Regions from separate parts of the Homo sapiens genome. Here regions 2, 3 and 4 are each linked to region 1. The links come from fine-mapping of genetic effects on gene expression. A gene starts in region 1. Each other region holds a variant in brackets. All regions are shown on one strand. Distances are between the middles of the regions. Region 1 holds the start of FNBP1 (formin binding protein 1). Region 2 overlaps ASS1 (argininosuccinate synthase 1). Region 3 overlaps FNBP1 (formin binding protein 1). Region 4 overlaps USP20 (ubiquitin specific peptidase 20).

Evidence for each region. PIP is the estimated chance that this variant, and not a neighbour inherited with it, causes the effect.
Region 2: its variant is fine-mapped to the expression of FNBP1 in substantia nigra (GTEx, PIP above 0.99).
Region 3: its variant is fine-mapped to the expression of FNBP1 in whole blood (INTERVAL, PIP 0.95).
Region 4: its variant is fine-mapped to the expression of FNBP1 in whole blood (TOPMed, PIP above 0.99).

Annotation. Positions count from the first base shown.
Region 1 is chr9:130,040,682-130,045,826 of GRCh38, forward strand. It overlaps FNBP1 (formin binding protein 1), which reads right to left and starts at 2,508. Exons shown (of 17, transcript NM_015033.3): 1 at 2,271-2,508. The coding sequence starts at 2,294. RefSeq lists silencers at 1,871-2,030, 2,211-2,770.
Region 2 is chr9:130,484,626-130,489,770 of GRCh38, forward strand. ASS1 (argininosuccinate synthase 1) reads left to right here. Exons shown (of 15, transcript NM_054012.4): 12 at 4,708-4,839. Among named protein-coding and RNA genes, the nearest start is that of ASS1, 42 kb to the left of the region's middle. The variant C/T (reference allele first, on the strand shown) is at 2,150.
Region 3 is chr9:129,894,151-129,899,295 of GRCh38, forward strand. It overlaps FNBP1 (formin binding protein 1), which reads right to left. Exons shown (of 17, transcript NM_015033.3): 16 at 1,688-1,846. Among named protein-coding and RNA genes, the nearest start is that of MIR6855, 27 kb to the left of the region's middle. The variant T/C (reference allele first, on the strand shown) is at 2,675.
Region 4 is chr9:129,876,598-129,881,742 of GRCh38, forward strand. USP20 (ubiquitin specific peptidase 20) reads left to right here. Exons shown (of 26, transcript NM_001110303.4): 23 at 1,741-1,843; 24 at 2,976-3,047; 25 at 3,516-3,692; 26 at 3,870-5,145. The coding sequence ends at 3,676. Among named protein-coding and RNA genes, the nearest start is that of MIR6855, 9.6 kb to the left of the region's middle. The variant A/C (reference allele first, on the strand shown) is at 2,759.

The DNA.
Region 1 (5,145 bases):
TATATAGAACTGTTAACTGATTCATTCTTCCTCATAAAATTGTCAAGTGAAAAAATTACAAATAGTTCACATCCTTCTCCTTTAAAACTATTTTCCAATTATTTTTATTGTAGAAAATGTCAAATATATATACTAGAAAGAATAGTGTAATGAATACTTCTGTACTCAGCATTTGGCTTCAATAATGGCCAACTCTGTCTCACTATCTCCCATCTACTAACAACCCAAATTATTGTGAAGCAAATATAAGATTTCATATCATTAATATTTGTATATATTCCAGTTCCCATTTATTATTTTTTTCTTTTTTCTTTTTTCTTTTCTTTTTTTTTTTTTTAAGAGGAGGCCTCTCCAGATATTCCCCAAGCTGTTCTTGAACTCCTGGGCCCAAAAGATCCTCCCGACTCAGCCTCCCAAGGTGCTGGCAATATAGGCCTGAGCCACTGCGCCCGGCCTCTCTCATTTATTTTCAATCACTCCTAACCCTGCCTTCCTTCCCACTTCTGCACCCTCAAAAAGAAATGTACAGAATAATGCAAGCAATTGCCGCTGTTTTAGCAGTTTTGCTCATAGCCACTGCCTCTCTTTGGAATTATATTCTATCCCATTCACCAACATCACTGAACTGTCCACCAAGGTATTGTGTTCGGTCCCTATTTCACTCAGAAATATATTGTACATTTTCCCTCCATAATTCCATCCACCTGTCTGAACAAGTGAAAAAAAAATTGTGCCACAATTTCTACTGTCTTGACAAAGATTACTTCTGATTTGCTTCCCCACCCCAGATAAGCTAAAGAGAGCTAAAGGGAGTGGAAGGATTAGAAGAGGAAAGAAACTTCAATACGGTACTCAAAGTCATAGATTTTGCCTAAACTGGTGTGTGCAAATATTTTAAACTATTTTATTTTCAAAATGGATACTTGTAAACATCAGCGGAAATTTTGTCATGAATCCCTTTTAGGCAGAAGATGTTTATAAAATGAATTATCTTAATTTAAGGGAGCTATTGCCCTCAGGATTTTGGTAATAACAACCGTAGCTGCTTCTGTACCTAACAAATGGTTATGTAAAAACAATTAAAGCAAAAGAAAACAAAACAAAAAACAAGGGAGGATGTGCTCTGTTTCTGTAATTGCTCTAACCTTGTTTTATTTTGATATGAGATTTCTTGGCCTCATCTCAGATAGCAACACCACCCTACACTTTCTCCTCCACACCCTTTGCAAATAGAATTCCAAAAGGTAGTTCAGGCACTTTAGAGTTCATCCTGGGAAATGGCTCATCTTGAGGGCATTTCAGTGCAGTAACTGAGATTTCGTCTGCTCCTTCCCGGGCCGCCGCACTGCCCATCCCCTGCCCAGTGATTTCCCCAGGAATCCGGGGACGGCAGGAAAAGAGCTCCATCCACAGCCAGCCCCTCGCCTTTCCGGGGACGGCCCTCAGCCCTGAGGGCTGCCCGTTTACCGTGCGCATCCCCCGGCCAAGCATCCCCGCAAGGCGCCCCTCACCGCCAACTTTCCCCACTGGAAACTATTCTCCGAGCAACCGTTAAAGATCATTGACCCCGCGAACGCCTCTTCCTGAGGTAGATCACGTAAGATCTCTCCCTAACTCCCACTTTCCCCTCCAGACCAGACGTCGCAGTGCCCACATCCCACTCAGGATTGAGCTACCCCGAAAGAACAAGTGCGCCCGGAGCCGCCACGGGCCAGAAGTCCTCGCCTCCAGAGCGAAGACCGCACTCTCGCCCCAGCACCCCAAAACCCGACCCCCGGCGCTCGCCCCGGCCGCCCCGCTCCCGGGGAAGTGCCCGATCCGCCAGCGCCTCCGCGGAGCCAGGACAGAACTCGCGGCCGGGGCGCCCCGAGACCCAACGCAGCGCCGCGCAGCCGGGGCCTCCACGCCCCCACGCCCGGTCCCGGCCCTCCCCGGGCATCCGCGGCTCGCCCCGGGGGATTAGGGCTCGGCCCGACACACACGGCCCGCTCCGGGGCGCCGGGGACAGGGAGGCCCGCCCGCGCCGTTCCTCAGGCCGCCGGGGACCCGCACCAACTCCCCTCGCCTCCGAAGGACAAGCCGGCCCGCACCTCCTGCTCGGGCCAAGGCGGACGAGGGGCATTGGAACCCCGCCTCCTCCCCAGGCCGCGAGGACCCCGACCAGCGCGCCCTCGCCTCCGCCCAGCAGCGCGGCCCGCGCCCCCTCCCCAGGCCGCGGGGAAACGCAGCGCGCGCCCCGCATCTGCCCGCGGGCCCAGCCCCTCACTCACCCAGAGCTCGGTGCCCCAGCTCATGGTGCAGGGGACGCGAAGGGGCGCTCCGCGCGGCGGGCGCGGCTCTCTGGTCCCCCTCCCCGGCGATCCCTTTGCCCCCCGAGATCCCCGCGACGGCGGAAAGCCCGGAGTCCGCGCGGCCTCCTCCGGCTCGCAGCTCCTCGCCCGGGGTCTCCTCGGCGGCTCCTCCTCCCCGCCGCTCCACAGCAAAATGGCCCGAGGAAGCAGCAGCCGCGGCCGCCGCAGCGCCCGCCCGCCCTACACCCGGAGAGCGGGGGAGGGGCGGGAGGGGAGGGGCGGGGCCGGTCTGACAGCTCGCGCACGCGCGCCCGCCCCACCCCGGCCCGGCCCCCTCCCCCGGGCTCCCCCGGCCGGGTCCGCGTCGCCCTGGGGTCCGGAAGGACGCGGAGGGAGGTGTGAGGGACGGCGGGACCCGGATCCCTAGGACTCCCCCTGCCAATCTGGTAATGACTTCTTAGTGACCACTGTCTGCTCGCAGTACTAGCGCTTGCCTTGGAACGCGGCAGGCCCTGGGATCACCGATGCTCCGCCGCGGTCTGAGATCGCTCCCCTGCGCGTATCGCCGCTCTGGATTTAAGGACAATACTTTCCCCTGGCAGCCATGCGCGCCGAGCAGAGTCAGCCCGGGAGGCTCTTTTCCCACCGCCCGAGGGAAGCCCGAGAGTCCCGCAGGCTGGCGCGGTGGGAGTGGGGCGGTGGTAACTGCGCGCTGTGCGAATAGAGACGTCGAGGCAAGCGCGACGGCCTCGAGTGGCTAGGGAAAGAATCCAGGGGCGTGCACCCAGTGATTTCCAATCTCTGAAACCAGTGATTTCCAACTTGTTCAGCCAAGAAACTCTCAGGCGTGAAATCACGTTACCGCCTAGTGGGTAAAAGCAAAGGCGTGGGGTACACAGATAACTTGTTTGGTTCAAATCCAGCCTCCCGCACGTGCTGGCCGGGCGGAGGCGGACAATTGCTCCACCTCTGGAAGCGCAGAGCGCAGTCCACCAAATGGAGGCAAATAACGTGTCCATCTCACTGCCCGGCGGTGAGGATCAGGGGTGGGCCAAGGCCGAAGGTTGGTAAACCCAGCGCTCATTTTATCAGCAGACGGACTCCCTCTCTATATATCCAAAGGTCTGCACAAATGTTCCTGACAAGCTATGGAAAATGTTTGGAATTCCAACTCCTGAATCACTAGCCCTTTCCCCACAGCTTATCTTTCTCCCTCGGTTAATGCTACTACTGGATCCTTTTCTGAGAAACCGTGCGACTCCCAACATGGGCCCCCAGTTAAAAAATATTTTACGATGATGCATTTCTCCAATCCCACCCCACCATTTTCAACCTGCTTATCATTCTCCTCCATTAAAAGGTGGAGCTAACCCGGGTCTGGTGGCTCACGCCTGTAATCCCAGCACATCAGGAGGCCCAGGTGGGAGGATGGCTGGAGGCCAGGAATTTGAGACCAGCCTGGGCAACATCGCAAGACCCTGTCTCTACAAAAAGAAAAAAAAAAAAGTTAGCTGGGCATGGTGGCATGCACCTGTGGTCCCAGCTACTTGGGAGACTGAGACAGGAGGATCGCTTGAGCCTAGAAGGTTGAAGTTGCAGTGAGCCATGATGGTGCCATTGCCCTCCAGCTTGAGCAACAGAGCAAGACCCTGTCTCAAAAATATTAACAATAATGAATTAAAGCCGGGCATGGTGGCTCACGCCTGTAATCCCAACACTTTGGGAGGCAGAAGTGAGTGGATCATCTGAGGTCAGGAGTTTGAGAGCAGCCTGGCCAACATGGAGAAACCCCGTCTCTACTAAAAACACAAAAGTTAGCTGGGCGTGGTGACAGGGCGCCTGTAATCCCAGCTACTCAGGAGGCTGAGGCAAGAGAATCGCTTGAACCCGGGAGGCAGAAGTTGGAGTGAGCCAAGATTGTGCCACTGCACTCCAGCCTGGGTGACAGAGCGAGACTGTCTCAAAAAATAAAATAAAATGAATAATAATAATAAATTAAGAGGTGGAGCTACTAAACAAAAAACAAAACAAAAAAAAACCTCTTGCAGATAAACCTCCAACTCTACTTCCTTTGTTGGGCAGTTACAATAAATTTAAGTTGTCAAAACTGTTTTGGTCTGCCTTTTTTCAGTTACAACCCTCCCTTCCTGCCCACCCCCATTCTTGTGTCTGTATAAATATTTTGCTCTCAGTTACCAGGTCTGAATTCTCTTTCCTCCAGAGACTGCTAGATATATAACAATGAGAACGGCCAGCTACCTATCTCCTAAGGCAGATTAATAGCCAGAGTGAGTTGGAGGGGGAAATTCAAACAATGCTGCACAGTTTAGTCTGCTAAAATTTGGAAACGGTACATGCAATGCAGGTTTATCTAACAAGACATTGCCTCAGTAATCACCTTCCTGCCAGGGCTTGACTTTTTAGTCAAATACAATGATCTAATCTTGACCAAGTTATTGGAGACTTCTCAAAAACAGTGACCACTTGTGAAAATACTCTAATCAAGAAGTAAAACAACCTGCTGCTTTAAAGAGGAGAAAGAGGAAGAGGAAGGGACAGCAGAAGAAAAAAAGAGACCACATGAAGATGAAACTTTTTAAGACGAGTAAGCAGGAGATTGTTAGTTATAGGAAGGAACCCATTAAAAGCTGCCGCAGAACTCTATGGATGTGAGTTAATTATACAACACTGCAAATATCTTTAACTTCATTAAGCTTTGGCAGTAACTGGAAAATGCTTGAAAGTGTCAGAATCTTCAAAAAATAAAGGAGAGAGACACCAATGATCATGAAGCCATGAGATAAAATGAAATAAGCCAGCAGAAAAAAGGCTAAAATATAGCACAGCATTTTTT
Region 2 (5,145 bases), 440 kb after region 1:
CTGTCATTTCCTCCTTCTCTCTGCGCAGTGGTTTGTATGCCGACTGTCAAAAGCCCCAAATTCATAGTCTTTTAGCATCAGGTTTCTGTCACTGTTTTTTTTTTCCAGAAGAAACACACAGAAATCATCTGTACCCCCTACCCCTGTGGAGAGGAGAGGGAAGAGCTTTAAACGCACACACACACACACACACACACACACACACGTGCGCGCGCGCGCGTCGGCAGCAACCTAAAAACAAGTTTTTTGATCCGTCACAATTAACACTTTCGAAGAAAAGGAGCAGGAATATTAATTGCACTGGTGTGTTTTGTGGCTGCAGCCTTTCCCCTTGCCCGTGAGCCCTCCGGAGGCTGCCTGGGAGGGTGGCAGCCAGGAAGCCGGTGCTGGGGGCTCAGGAAGAGGAGGGTTCTGCCTGGCCTCTGCCCACCAGACATTCTCTGCTCCCGGTGGCACTGGCCTCATTTTCCTGGGGACACCTGTGATGGGCCAGTAGCTGGAGGACCTTGGACAAGTCACAGCTCTTCCTCGAGCCCTGAACCCCACCTGCGCCCTCCCCTCTCTGGACTGATGGGAGGCGATGCTGTGGCCTCGAATGTTCTCGAGACAAGACTGTCAGTAAGTAGGGCACACCTGGAGGACGCTCTGAACACTTACCTTTGAGGTAGGTCCCAAAGGAAGTTGGAATGTCAGAGCAGCAGGAACTTGCAGCCTTCTTGTTTTCCAGATGGGTTGCCTGGGTCTAAGAGAGGGGGCTGAGACCGGCCAAAGTCACACAGCAAAGCCAAGCTGGGCACCTTCTGTAAAGGCCAAGCTGGGCACTTTCTGTAAAGCATGGTTGTAGGACTCCTGGTGCCCAGCTCCAGCCCTGCAAATGTAGTTTGGACTGCCCTACAGTTGGCCGAGCTGAGGACAGAAAAGCAGGGAGGCGGGCCTGGGTGTCTAGGAGTTGAAAATGAGGAGGGCTCCTGCTACCGGCCTACCCAGGATGGCGCCATTACGACTCTGTGGCCAGTGTAAGGATGGGCTTTGCAAGTTTCTGGAATTTTCCAAAATGTACCCAAACTAATCACTAGAAGGCCTGTTTCCAACCCGATATGTATCCAGTTCTAGCATGTGCCAGGATGGAGGACCAGCAGGACTTTGTCAGTGTCGTGCTCTTGGGAAATTGCTTTATTTCTGGTAATAAGGTTTCTAGGCTGATTGAAAATTTGCTCCTCGAACTTTATCGTTATATCTGCCATTTTGGAGACAGAGATTTCCTGTTTCTGCACACACTGGTCTTTCTGGACACACTGCTGAACCATTCCCCTTTCTGGTGGCTTTTTTGGCACTGTCATGTTTGTGTGCGGTCATCATGTTTTGTTTTGTTTCTCTTTCAGACAGGGTCTTGTTCTGTCACCGAGGCTGTAGTGCAGTGGTACGATCATGACTCACTGCAGCCTCAACCTCCTGGGCTCCAGCAATCCTCCCACCTAGCATACACCACCACACCCAGCTAATTTACCATTTTTTTGTAGAGACGGGGTCTCCCTATATTGCCTGGGTTGGTCTTGAACTCCTGGGCTGAAACGATCCTCCCACCTTGGCGTAGTAGCTAGGACCACGGGCACATGCCACCACGCCCAGCTAATTTTTTTAATTTTTTGGTAGAGATGGGGTCTCACTATATTGCCCAGGCTGGTCTTGGACTCAGCTCAAGCAATCCTCCCTCCTTGGCCTCCCAAAGTTCTGGGATTACAGGTGTGAGCCCCCGCATACCTGGCCTGTGCTAAGTTCTATGTCCCTGTTCTCCAGGCTGTCTATAATGACTTTTCTCAGTCATTCCTCTGTTTCTGCTGCCATCAGCCTTTTTACCCCTTCCTGGTTTGTGGCTCTGAGCTACTCTGCAGAAAATGATGACGGACCCATTTGAACTGTTTTACAAGAGTCACGGTGAGGCCTGAGGAACTCCCGAGGGATTTGAGGGCTTGGATCTCTGCATAAACTTGGAGAGAGGCCATTTCCTAATCAGAGGTCACAACTAGATTCAGACGGTGGACATGCCGAAGGCTGCAGCCCCCACCAATGAAGCGGGATGGGCTCTTTCACAGCACACGATACTCATATTTGCACCTGGTTGCTCTGAGGGGCTTTCACAAGCATGTCA[C/T]CTGACACCAGTATATCAGGGGTTTACAGATGAGAGAACCAAGCCCCCAGAGAGGTTCCCTTCTGCCCAGGAACACGGAGCCATGGTGAGAACCAAGCTTTTCCTCCACAGCAACAGCCTGGACTTGGGCTTTTTCTCTCACGCTCTGGTTAGCAGTTGATCACTTTGCCAAAGGCCCTTCGAGGCCACCTGGAGCTGAGATGGGAGACCCCGGGGCCGGGCCCATTCCCCCTCCAGTTGGCTGGGTGGTATTAGGCAAGCCACCCCCCTCCCCAGGCCTCAGGTTCTCATTTGTAAAACTGGTGTGTGGGACTAGATTTAAGGTGAGTCCAGAGTTTGCAGAGGGGCCTCTGTTCCTCCCAGCACAACCTCTGCCATCTCTTCTATATGCTGGGCTTCTGCCGCAGGCTGTTTGAATATTAGGTTGGCAGCTAACAGTCGGGAGAACACGGTACCGGATTGATCCTAATGCAAGCTCTGACATTTCCGTGATTCTAAGACTTAAAGATCAAAGACTGGAGGAGTTCTCCAAGGAGGAAACTTCTGGTTAGTGCACGAGGGCTCAGCAGACTCAGCCTCCCCAGATCCCCGGTAGGCTTCAGAGTCAAAACCAATATCCTTCATGGTTTTTTTTTTTTTTTAATTTAAAACTGTGGTAAAATACATGTAACATAAAATGAACCATTTTAAAATGCGTAAGCGTGCCGCTCAACGGCATTAGGTCCTTTCCCAGGGCTGTGCCACTGTGACTACCGTCCACCTCCAGAACATTTTCTTTTTGCAAAGCTGAGACTCTGGCCCCATGAAACTCCCCATTTTCCCTACCCCGGCCCCTGGCAGCCACCATTTCTGGCTGTATGATTTTGATGACTCGAGGGACCTCGCATGAGTGGAACATACAGTGTTTGTTTTTGTGCCTGGCCTTTGTCACTTAGCGTCACGGCCTTATGTTGATGCTGTGGCATGTGTCAGGATTTCCTTCCTTTTTTTTTTTTAGACAGAGTCTTGCTTTGTCACCCAGGCTGGAGTGCAGTGGTGTGAAATCAGCTCACTGCAACCTCTGCCTCCCAGGCTCCAGTGATCCTCCTGCCTCAGCCTCCCAAGTAGCTGGGGCTACAGGCATGTACCACCATGCCCGGCTAAATTTTTTTGTTATTTTTAGTAGAGACGGGGTTTCACCATGTTGGCCAGGCTGGTCTTGAACTCCTGACCTGAGGTGATCCACCTGCCTCGGCCTCCCAAAGTGCTAGAATTATTACAGTCATGAGCCACTGTGCCCGGCCCCCTTCCTTCTTAAGGCTGAATAATATTCCATCGTATGGATGGACTGCATTTTGCTTCTTCACTCATCCCTCGATGGACACCTGGGTTGCTTCCGCCTCTTGGCTATTGTGATTAATGCTGCTATGAACATGAGTGTACAAATCCTTTCTGGGTTTTTTTCAAGCAGCCACTGTAGAAAGATGTTAGTAAATTCCCAGGATAACTGAGAACCTGCCCTTTTAGTGATGTAACGTATGGTGGAAGAAAGGAAGCTCTCGGGGTAGAATCCATGGAGATGGGGGAGCTATGGCCCCTGCTCCACCCAGACAGCAGCTGCAGGGCAGGCTTGCCCAAGGGCCAGCTCTGAAGTTGATGCGAGAGGTCGCACTCCTGGGGCAAGAGGGGGCCTGGGCTGTGTGCTGTGGGCGGTCCTGCCTCTTGGTGCCCCACTGTCCTCCAATGCAGTAGGACCTTCCCCCAGACCCAGCTCAGCCCAAGACCAGGCATTTCTGTCTCACTCGGAGATCATCTGTTCCAAGCAGGTTGTTTTCCAAATGGAGGGACTGGGCCTGAGGTCACAAGAGGGGACTTGAGCAATCCCTTCTCCCCTGACCTTCCAGGGTTGGGCCTCCACGGCCAGGTGACTTACAGGGCAGCAGACAGCACTGGTGAGGGACTCGGGGGCCTACATTCAGTTCCCAGCTCCACCTAGAGCAAGTCCCTTCTCCTCTTGAGCTCAGTTTCCCCATCTGCACGGTGCGGTCAGCCTAGGTGATTGCCCAAGCCCTCTGCCACCCCAGTGGCCTCTGGAGAGACCTGGCCGCAGGGGCCCCATGGGCTGAAGGTGGCATGTGTGTACACATGTGTACATGTATGTGCACAGCTGTCCCCCTCCCCTGGCTCCCTGGTGGAAGGGAAGAAGGGATATTTGGGGCTCTGGGCTCTACCGTAGTCGCTTTAATTACAGGCTTTCAACCTCGGGCCGGTGGGCACGCATGGGGAGGGAGGGGTTGCTGCTCCGAAACCCTGTCATTTTCTAGCGTCTGAGGGCCCCTTCAAAGGGGGCATCTAGACATTTTCTCCACAAGCCGCAGAGTGGACTGTCGTGGCCCCAGCATGAACATAATGACAGATGCATTTTGCAGCAAGCTGGGAGTGAATGGGTCCGGCCGGCTTGTCTCCTGTCAGACGACTCATTATTATTATTATTTTTTTTTTTGTCATTTGCTGACAGTTTGGGTTTCATGCGTTTCTCTCTTTTTTCTCCTTTTCCCCCTGCCTGGAAAAATGGCTAGGTATCTACGAGACCCCAGCAGGCACCATCCTTTACCATGCTCATTTAGACATCGAGGCCTTCACCATGGACCGGGAAGTGCGCAAAATCAAACAAGGCCTGGGCTTGAAATTTGCTGAGCTGGTGTATACCGGTGCGTAAGACTCTATGGCTGCCCCCTCTAACCGCCTCACAAGGGATCCCAAAGTACTATCAGGCTCTCGGGCCTGGCCCTCCCCTCCGTATCAGCACCTTCCTCCCCTGCCGCCCACTGCCATCCTCATGTGAGACCCCAAAAGGTGCAGGCCAAAGGGGGTTGAGGGAAAGTGCAGGGCATGAGGGAGCAAGGGGATGCTAGAACCTGCCTTGCCATGGGGTGTGTCCAGGGAGATGCACCGGCTTCCCAAGGTGTCCGGCAGCTTCCACCCCCTACAGTTTGCATGACTGCAGCAATGCCAGG
Region 3 (5,145 bases), 150 kb before region 1:
CAAGGAAATAATTTTCAAAATCAAATAAAAAGAGAATCTGACCCAACACCTTCATTCTGACCCATTTGTAGTGGGTTGTCTATGATCTCGGGGTGGATTCTGGAAATGGGCACAGTGAAATGCCTGGCAACCATCTACGCATGTGACCAACTTCACTATCTCCCCTCCCACATCAATGCCAATTTAAAAATGCAAATTCTCATGTGGCCTAGATTCCTTTCGATGTGGTGAGACATTTTACTTCATTCTGGCTACAGTTAATTGTATAAAATGAGCCAGAAATTCTAAAATAATTTCCAGTAAATCCAAACCTTGCCAATGATTAAAAGCAGAAACAAAACAAAACAAAAACAACAACAACAAAAAAACAAAAGCAAACCCCCAAAGTCTTTGAACAGCAATGTGCTGAGATCTGTGTCTGTGGGGAGAAGCATTTGCTGCCACACCACGTTCTCTTTATAGCCCCACCTGGGCAAGCGTGAGTGCAGCTCTACTTGGAAAACCAACAGAAACCGAACCAAGTGTGAGAGGAAATCACAGCCAAAAGGAGCTGATGCAGGGACACGCTCTGCCTTTTAAGTAACTCCATCTAAACAGCACTAGCACATCTGATCAACTGTCAATTTGGGCCAGGTGCGGTGGCTCACGCCTATAATCCCAGCACTTTGGGAGGCAGAAGCAGGCAGATCACTTGAGGTCAGGAGTTTGAGACCAGCCTGGCCAACAGAGCGAACCCGTCTCTACTAAAAATACAAAAATTAGCCAGGCGTGGTGGTGCACACCTGTAATCCCAGCTACTCGGGAGGCTGAGGCAGGAGAATCGCTTGAACCTGGGGGAGGCGGAGGTTGCAGTGAGCCACTGTACTCCAGCCTGGGCAACAGAGCCAGACTCTGTCTCAAAACAACAACAACAACAAAAACACAAACACAACAACAAAAACCTGTCAATTTGATGACACTTGGAAAATCAGCAATGCAATGTAAAAATCAAGTGGTCAATTCACCAAACTTTTCCAGATTTCAGCTGGTTGTCTGGGATCATGTAGATGGAACAGGGTACTCGTGATGCCCTACCAAGGATGCTGACCAGGTTTAAGTAAAAACACACACTTTTGGTGCCAATATAAGAATCTTATTTACTGCTTTAGTCAAGAAGGAGATGTTATTTCACTTGTGACTTCCTCCCAAGTGAATGAGTATACAATTTAACAAACTAACACAGTTCAGTTTATTAAGTTACAATCTGTAACCACCTAATGTAGCTCAGTGTATGGTGGATACTAGATATAAACAAGAGTAGGGAAGTCTTTGGCACCTGCATGATGCGTGCCGGCTTTTAAATTCAGAAAGATGAGAAGCTACAATGCAACTTTTTTTTTAATCTACAGATACCGCCAAAAGAAGAAATGTTTATCAGATTTTGAATGACATAGCTGTAAGTTGGCGGTTGGCAGCTTTCCACATAAAATTTCATCAGCAAGTGAAACTTGATTACAGCCCAAACTAGACAAGGCAATTCAGGTGCCCAGACCCTGAAGTCCACGTGAGACTACAGGAGAACGTGCATTATGGTGCTTGCCAGCCAGTCTCTTGAGGAACTGCCTGTAACAGTCATGGTTGTGGGGAGAAACAACTCCATTTTTTTTAAGTTTTTTTTTTTTATGGTATTAAATATAAGTCTTAGCACCTTTGGCATTTTTGTCCAAACAGACTTCGACATATGAAGTGGGGACATAACCCTCTTCATCTTCATTTCTCCGAATGCGGGTCCAGCCATCGCCTTTGTCTTCCTCTATGACATACAATGTTTCTCCTTCAACTACGGAAATCGTTCCTTCATTCTGACCTGAAAAAGCAATATCAGGATATGTTAGATGTCTTGGCAAATGCAGGGAGGAAGCAAACAGTGGCCTTCGCAATGAAACAAGTGTCGTCGAAGATGAAGTCCACACAAAATTCACCCCACTCGGACCTTCTCAGATGCACGGACCCCTCACCCACTGCCTCAAAACCATCTCCTTCTGCACAGAAATGTCCAGGTTCTTACCTCTGTCTCTCTAGGGACCCTCTCTAAGTCCTCCAGGGCCCTCTTTCTCCTCCCTCCCAGAATGGTAAGTATTTCTCACTGGATAAATCTTTGGTTCTCTTCTCTAGTCTTCTTCTGTCTCACTTGGATCTCTCTCAGGAGAAAGGTACCCTCGTGGCTCCAACTGCTTCTCTTTTGTCTGTTATTTTTTGGGGGGGTTGTGGGGGATGGAGTCTTGCTCTTGTTGCCCAGGCCAGAGTGCTGTGGTGCAATCTCAACTCACTGCAACCTCCACCTCCCCGGTTCAAGCGATTCTCCTGTCTCAGCCTCCCGAGCAGCTGAGACTATAGGTGTGCACCACCACACCCGGCTAACCTTTCTATTTTTAGTAGAGATGGGGTTTCACCATGTTGGTCAGGCTGGTCTGACTCCTGACCTTAGGTGATCCACCAGCCTCAGCCTCCCAATTTTTTTGTTGTTGTTGTTTGTTTGTTTTGAGACAGAGTCTTGCTCTGTTGCCCAGGCTGGAGTGTGATGCCACTTGTCCCGGGTTCAAGTGATTCTCCTGCCTCGGCCTCCCGAGTAGCTGAGATTACAGGCATGTGCCACCACGCCCGGCTAATTTTGTATTTTTAGTAGAGACGAGGT[T/C]TCACCATGTTGGTCAGGCTGGTCTTGAACTCCTGACCTCAGGTGATCCACCCGCCTCGGCCTCCCAAAGCGCTGGGATTACAGGCGTGAGCCACCACGCCCGGCCCAACTGCTCCTCTTTAAACACTGTCCTCACATATTGCTTCCATTCTGGTACTTTCTGCAGCCAAGATTCCACTTTTCCCACTGTCTGCAGCACACTGCCACCTAGACATGGCCCCAACACCTGAAACAACATAGATGAACCTGGATTCACTGTTCTTCCTCCTAACTATATCCTCCTGCTTTTCCACTTCCCTAGACCTCTCTGTCCTCCCAGGAATGCAACTCTGGGAGCCGTCTTGGATTTCCTCTCCTTTTTGTTCCTGGCTTTTGATCAGCCCCGAATATATGCAGTTTGTCAATGGCGGCATCTCTGTATCCATTCCTTGAACAAGGCCCCCAAGACCTTCTGCTAGGATCATTTCAAAGGCTGCCCACCACCCCCCAGTTTTCTGCAAGGCAAAGAGTTTAGGGAGCTGTTAACAGGGCAACAGGGTACGGTGGGGGATGGTTGGAATATGAAGTAAAACTGGGAACGTTTAAACTGGTACGTCTTTCTTATTTTGTCACAATGAACATTTAGTCTATTAAAGGCTCTGAAAAGTCCTGTAGTAAAGAAATCTGTAAAATTTATTTATCCCAGGGCTTCCCAAACTTACTTGAGCTCTGATTGCTAGTTTTAAAAATTTATTCATTATATTAAAATGCAACTTTTTCGTAATTTTATTTATTTATTTATTTATTTTTTAGAGAGGGTTTCACACTATCGCCTAGGCTGGAGTGCAGTGGTACGATCATAGCTCACTGTAGCCCTGAACTCTTGGCCTCAGCCTCCCAAAGTGCTGGGATTACAGGTGTGAGCCACTGAGCCTGGCCTGAGAGCTTCTTTCATGGCCTCCTTATTAACGCTCTGCAGGACATCGTTTCAAGGTTCATTGGTTTAGAAACACTAAGCTAGTTTATCTTTTCTTTCTTTTTTTTGAGACAGAGTTGCCCTCTGTTGCCCATACTGGAGTACAATGGCACGATCTTGGCTCACTGCAACCTCTGCCTCCTGGGTTCAAGCAATTCTCATGCTTCAGCCTCCCGAGTAGCTGGGATTACAGGCGCCCGCCACCACGCCTCACTGATTTTTGTATTTTTAGTAGAGACGGGGTTTCATCATGTTGGGCAGGCTGGTCTAGAACTCCTGACCTCAGGTGATCTGCCTGCCTCAGCCTCCCAAAGTTCTAGGATTACAGGCGTGAGCCACCATGCCCGGCCTGGGCTAGTCTTTCTAACCATCCTCCATGTCTTCCAGTGGATCCTACACATCTGACGATGACTTTCCTAAGGTACAGCTCTGACTGCATCGACACCCTGCTAGGGGACCTCCCATAGCTCCTCAATGTTTGCCACATAAAACCCAGATGTTTCCCTACCTCGCCCCCATTGGCACTTCCCACTCTTTAGTGCCACATTTCACTATTAGGACTTAAGACATCTAAGCTCCAGCCACACCACACCCATTTCTGGCCACACCCCCCATGCCATGGCAAGTTCTCCAAACTTCCTTAAGGAAGCGACCTCATTCTCCCCTGTCCTCCCCGTTCCTCTGTATCCCTCTTCTGGCAAACACTGCAAACTGCCTGCTTTTTTTTTTTGAGAGGGAGTCTTGCTCTGTTGCCAGGCTGGAGTAAAGTGGCACGACCTCGGCTCACTGCCACCTCCGACTCCTGGTTTAAGTGAGTCTCCTGCTTCAGCCTCCCAAGTAGCTGGAATTACAGGCATGCGCTACCACGCTTAGCTGATTTTTGTATTTTTAGTAGAGATGGGGTTTCACCATGTTGGCCAGGATGGTCTCGATCTCCTGACCTCACGATCCGCCTGCCTCGGCCTCCCAAAGTGCTGGGATTACAGGCGTGAGCCACTGCACCCAGCCGCTGCTTGCTCCTTAAGTGTGTCTGCCTGATTTCCCTCTGGGCAGGTGCCATATCATACGACCTGCATCCCCCCACTTCATGGGCCTTTACAAGACAGGAGCGCTATAGATACTAGATATTAAATGAATGGATGAAATGATCATCCTCCCTATCGTCTGCTGCAGTGAAGCAAGCTCTCTGGAAGCTGTTAAGTTATACGAACCAAAAGTCAAAATATACAACCAAATAATAATCATACCATGAGTAGGATAAAAGCATAGTAGAGAAGGATCTGGAAGGCTGCTGCTGCAGCTTTTTTTTTTTTTTTGAGACAGAGTCTCGTTCTGTCACCCAGGCTGGAGTACAGTGGCGCTATCTCAGCTCACTGCAACCTCCGCCTCCCGGGTTCAAGTGATTCTCGTGCCTCAGCCTCCCGAGCAGCTGGGATTACAGGCGCCTGCCAGCATGCCCAGCCAGTTTTTGTATTTTTAGTAGAGATGGGATTTCACCATGTTGGCGAGGCTGGTC
Region 4 (5,145 bases), 160 kb before region 1:
CACTGCGCTCCAGCCTGGGCAACCGAGTAAGACTCCATCTCAAAAAAAAAAAAAAAAGAAAAAGAAAAGAAAGGAGTCTTCTGCGGGGAACTAGATGGCCAGGTGTCTAGGAGGGCTTTTCCTGGTGGGAGGGTTGGCTTGAGTAAGTGAAGCCTCATCGCCCGGGTGCTGTTGAGCTTAAAGAACCAGTAGATGGATCCCATTCTCAGCCTTGGCTGTGTTATTTTGGGCTGAATTATTCTTTATTGTGGGGCCGTCCTGTGCATTGTAGGATGTTTAGCAGCATTCTTGGCCTCTACCCACTAGTGCTAGTGACAACCAAAATGACCTCCAGAGATTGCCCAGGGTCCCCTGGGGTGCAGAGTACCCTCCCTGCCCTGGGTGAGAACCACTGGGCTCTACAGACTGCCCAAGATAAAGCAGGAAGTGAAAACCAAGGTGCAAACCAGGACTCAAGTGTGACTGTGTTTAGAAGAGGGACTTCTGTGAGGGAGCTGAGTGCAGGCGAGGCTCCTGGCGCACTCCCTCCCTGCCACGCTACTTCTAACAGGGTTAGGACGTGTTCCACTCACAGGGAGGGCCTGGTGAGAGACACTGAGGGACGCCCGTGCTTTGTGGCCATTAGGAAATGATTCTGCTGCCTGGGCATGGTGGCTCACGCCTGTGATCCCAGCACTTTGGGAGGCCGAGGCAGGTGGATCACTTGAGCCCAGGAGTTCAAGACCAACTTGGCCAACATGGCGAAACCCCATCTCTACAAACAATACAAAAATTAGCCAGGCATGGTGATGTGTACCTGTAGTCCCCGCTACCTGGAGGGCTGAGTGAGTTGGGAGGATCACCTAAGCCTGGGAGGTTGAGGCTGCAGTGAGCCGTGATCATGCCACTGCACCGCAGCCTGGGCAATAGAGTGAGACCCTGTCTCAGAACACAAACGAAAAAGAGACTGTCAGGGCTGGGCCTAGTGGTATGCACCTGTGGTCCAACCTACTCAGGAGGCTGAGGTGGGAGGATCACTTGAGCCCAGGAGGTCAAGGCTGCAGTGAGCCATGATTGCGCCGCTGCACTCCCGCCTGGGCACAGAGTGAGACCACCCCCCATCTCGAAAAAGAAAATGCTCCTGTCAGAAGGAGAGCTGCCTCTCTGAGCAGATAGGCACATTCTATTCAACCGGAGAAAATTAGCATCTCCCAGGCCGGGCGCAGTGGTTCATGCCTGTTATCCCAGCACTTTTGAGAGGTCGAGGTGGGCGGATCACCTGAGGTCAGGAGTTCAAGACCAGCCTGGCCAACATGGCGAAACCCCGTCTCTACTAAAAACACAAAAAGTAGCCAGGTGGTGGCACACACCTGTAATCCCAGCTACTCAAGAGGCTGAGGTGGGAGAATCGCTTGAACCTGGGAGGCAGAGGTTGCAGTAAGCCGAGATCGCGCCACTGCACTCCAGCCTGGGTGACAGAGTGAGATTCCTTCTCAAAAAGTAGAATCTCCCTTGTGGTCTCAGTTGGGTCAAACAGTTATTGAAGAGACCCACAAAATGTTACCACCGTCCTCTCTGAGTGATGGGTGTGTTCATTTTGTTTGAGCTTGTCTGGGGGTTTGATTTTTCACCTTGAGTATCTGGTGTTTTTGTAAGACTCTTGGGTGAGGGACTGGGGCGGGGGCATTTGGGAAATCCTTGCTGAAGGTAAATAGAGACTGACCTGCCCTCTGTCTCCTCCCGTCCCTGCCCGCCTGCCAGTTGAACAAGGCCTTCCAGGCCGAGGAGTCGCCGGGCGTCATCTACTGCATCAGCATGCAGTGGTTCCGGGAGTGGGAGGCGTTCGTCAAGGGGAAGGACAACGGTGAGCTGAGGGGGGACCTGGCACTTACCTGCCCTGGGGGCCTCCTGGGAGATGGGATGCTGGCAGGGGAGGGCTGGCACACAGGGGCTCCTGCAGGCCCCATGCCTGCCCCCAGGTGCCACCCATCCAGGGTGAACAGAGAGCATGGGGCTTTGCCAGTCCCCAGTGGGGATCACTGTCCCCACCCAGAGGCAGGAAGCTGCTCCTGCTCTGCGCCCCCTGCCCTTCTCCACTCCCTGCCATGCCCAGCAAGCTGCTCTGCCCTCCTGCAAGGCCCTTTCCTCAGGGGAGTGTGTCGCCCGAAATGACAGATTTGTCATCTGACTCCTTGGATTTACAGAGGTGGAGACAGGCCCCATCACAAGCTCCCAGGGTCCCCCAAGTCCCCAGTGAAGAACAGCAGAACCAAGCCATGGAAGCCCACAGGCTCTAAACTATTAAACCTGCATTAAAAATTTCGGCTGGGGCGCCCTCGGGGCATAATCTAACCTGTGGCTCCGGGGCCCGGCAGGGTGGGTAGAGCCCACGGTTCTGCTCACGGGACCCTTGGTGTGGAGCATGAGCACCCACCTGTGCTTGGGAAGGGAGGCCTCATTGCCATCCCGCTAGTCGGGGAAGGTGCCAGGGCCACCGTGAGGCCTCTCTGGTGGTGGCTGAGGCCTTCAGCATGGCTGTGGTTGAGAATGTAGCTCCGGAGCCCTCGCCCTGGCCTGGACGCTGGCCTTGCCTTCTACCAGCTATGACCTGAGTGGTTACTTCACCTTCCCAGGCCTCGGCTCTGTCTCTGTAAACCTCTGTCTTGTCCTGTGGTTGCCGAGGCTAAATGAGATAGCTGGGCAGAGGGGAAGGGGCGTGGTGAGCGGCAGCTGCCAGCAGAGATAAGGGCATGGGCCATCCACCGCAGCTCCTGCGGCC[A/C]GCACAGAGTCTGAGACCATCTCGTGTGTCCTGGAAATTCCCTCTGCTGGGTCCTCAGACTGCCACAGAGGAGCATTGGGTGGCTCAGGCGCCTCATCCATTAGAGACTTCACGCTGACCCCCAGGCCTGGGGCGGCCCCACTTGGGATGGCTCTGCTGCTGTGGAGGGTGGAGGGCATGGCAGGGGCTGAACCCGAGCCCGCTGTGTCTGTTGCAGAGCCCCCCGGGCCCATTGACAACAGCAGGATTGCACAGGTCAAAGGAAGCGGCCATGTCCAGCTGAAGCAGGGTGAGTTCCCCCTGGGGTCAGCCAGGCTCCTCTCTGCCCTTCCTGGCTGCCAGGCTGCTGCCCAGTCCCGTCCTTCCAGGAGCCCCCTTACCACCTGTCTTAGAGTCAGGCTGAGACGTCCACCTGAGTCCAGACCCAGGCGGCTGAGAGATGGCCCAAGGGGCTTGGTCTCTGCTTGTGTCCTCCAGGTCCCACCCCTCTGCCTGCTGCTGGCCTTGCCCACCCTGCTGTTTATGTCAGCCCCACCCCCAGGAACAAGGGACACAGCCAGAGATGTGTTATCCGGGGCCCTTAGCGGGATGGACATTCCTCTGGGAAATCCTGATTTCCATCTGACAGCTTTGCATAGAAGCCCTGGTTGCCGTCTTCCCGCTTCGGGGCCTGGCCCTGCGGAGCCCCCACTGCCCAGGCCGGTGGCTTCCTTGAGGAGGCAAAGGTGAGCCTAGGGGTGCCTCTCGTGCCCTGCAGGAGCTGACTACGGGCAGATTTCGGAGGAGACCTGGACCTACCTGAACAGCCTGTATGGAGGTGGCCCCGAGATTGCCATCCGCCAGAGTGTGGCGCAGCCGCTGGGCCCAGAGAACCTGCACGGGGAGCAGAAGATCGAAGCCGAGACGCGGGCCGTGTGATCTGCTGGGCTAGTCTGTAAGTCGCCCCGGCTGGTCCCTCCATGGCACTCTGGGTCCTCTCCTCACTCTCCAGAGACCCTCACATGTCCTTTTGAACATCCAAAGAGCAGGTCCCTGAAAGCACCTTCCTGGAGGATGTGGGAGGGCCCTGGACATGGCCCGGCCCCACTGCTGAGTGCCCGTGTCCCCACAGCCCCATGTGCCCCACCCCGCGGAAGGCGTGTTTGTGCCCAGAAGAGAGGCCGGGCTGCTGCAGAACCCCGCCGTGTAAAGAGGCAGAAAAGTTGGTTTGGTTTGCAGTAACGCTGCAACTAGAAAATATATGCACTTCAGGCTTGTTGAAACGACCAAGACTCTGTGACGTTAATTTGGGTCTTTGTCCTGGCAGTGCCTCTGCCAGTCACTGTCATCGTTGTGTCCCCCACAACTGTCCTCTTGCTAGCTCGGCCCAGCTTTGTCCCTGGAGCCCGATGCTACCCCTGTCAGACAGAGGCTGCGGCCTGGGCCAGAGTCAGGGAGTAGCTGCTGCTTCACGGCGTCTCCACTGTGCGATTGGCCCGGAGCCCCGAAGACTCGGAGGGAGCTGCTCAGGGCCGGTGAGCGCAGCCAGAAGCCCTGGCCAGTGAGGAGCTCACAGGTCCTCCCTGGTGGTCCCGCCGCACCTCTGCATCTCCTGGGCGTCACCAGGAAGGCTCTGAAGTCCCGGGCTGCTCTCAGCACTTCTCCTGCAGACTGAAGACTCTGGACTCATTGCTGATTGGAACACCAGGAGGAGGTTGGATTTCTGCCAGTGGGGGATGTTTCTGGAGGCAGCTGGTCCCCCACACCGCGTCCTGCTGAGCCTGCCCCCTGGATTGGCTGTAATTTGCCTCGAAGTTCAGCAGTTCATCTTCATGGGAAATTTGCTGAGCCCCCACCAGGGAACCGGATGATGAAACAGGGATACCTCACAGCTTGGCCATTTGAGGCAAAGGCAGCTTCCCGAGCTGATGCTAAAGAAGACAGACTTTCCCTTCCTCCCAGCAGCAGCAGTGCAGAGCCCACCTGGAGGGATGTGGGGGCTGTGCAGGGTGCAGCGCTCAGGTGGATCCTGGGAAGCAGCCTCTGGATGCTGAGTGGAGGGAGCCACTGAGCACAGCAAGGCACCAAAGCCCCTGGAGAAACCGCCAGGGCGAGGTGCGACCATCATCAGGATCAAAGCAGACGGGGCGTGGGTGGGGAAGGGGCTCTGGGACCAGACCCCCCACACTACTGCGTCTTTGTTTCTATCAGTCTTTGTAGAAGCAGGTGGTGGTGGAAATTCCAGCAGGTGGGTCCCGCAGAGGCCCTGAGGCCTCACTTTTCGGATCTTCTGTCCCAGATCCTGCTCCCTCCCTGCTGAGCCTGGGGTTCCCCTGGCATTGGCCCCAGCCTTCTGAAAGCCGGCGCTGCAGCCAGAGGCCGCACGCTGCACTGTCGCGACGCAGAGA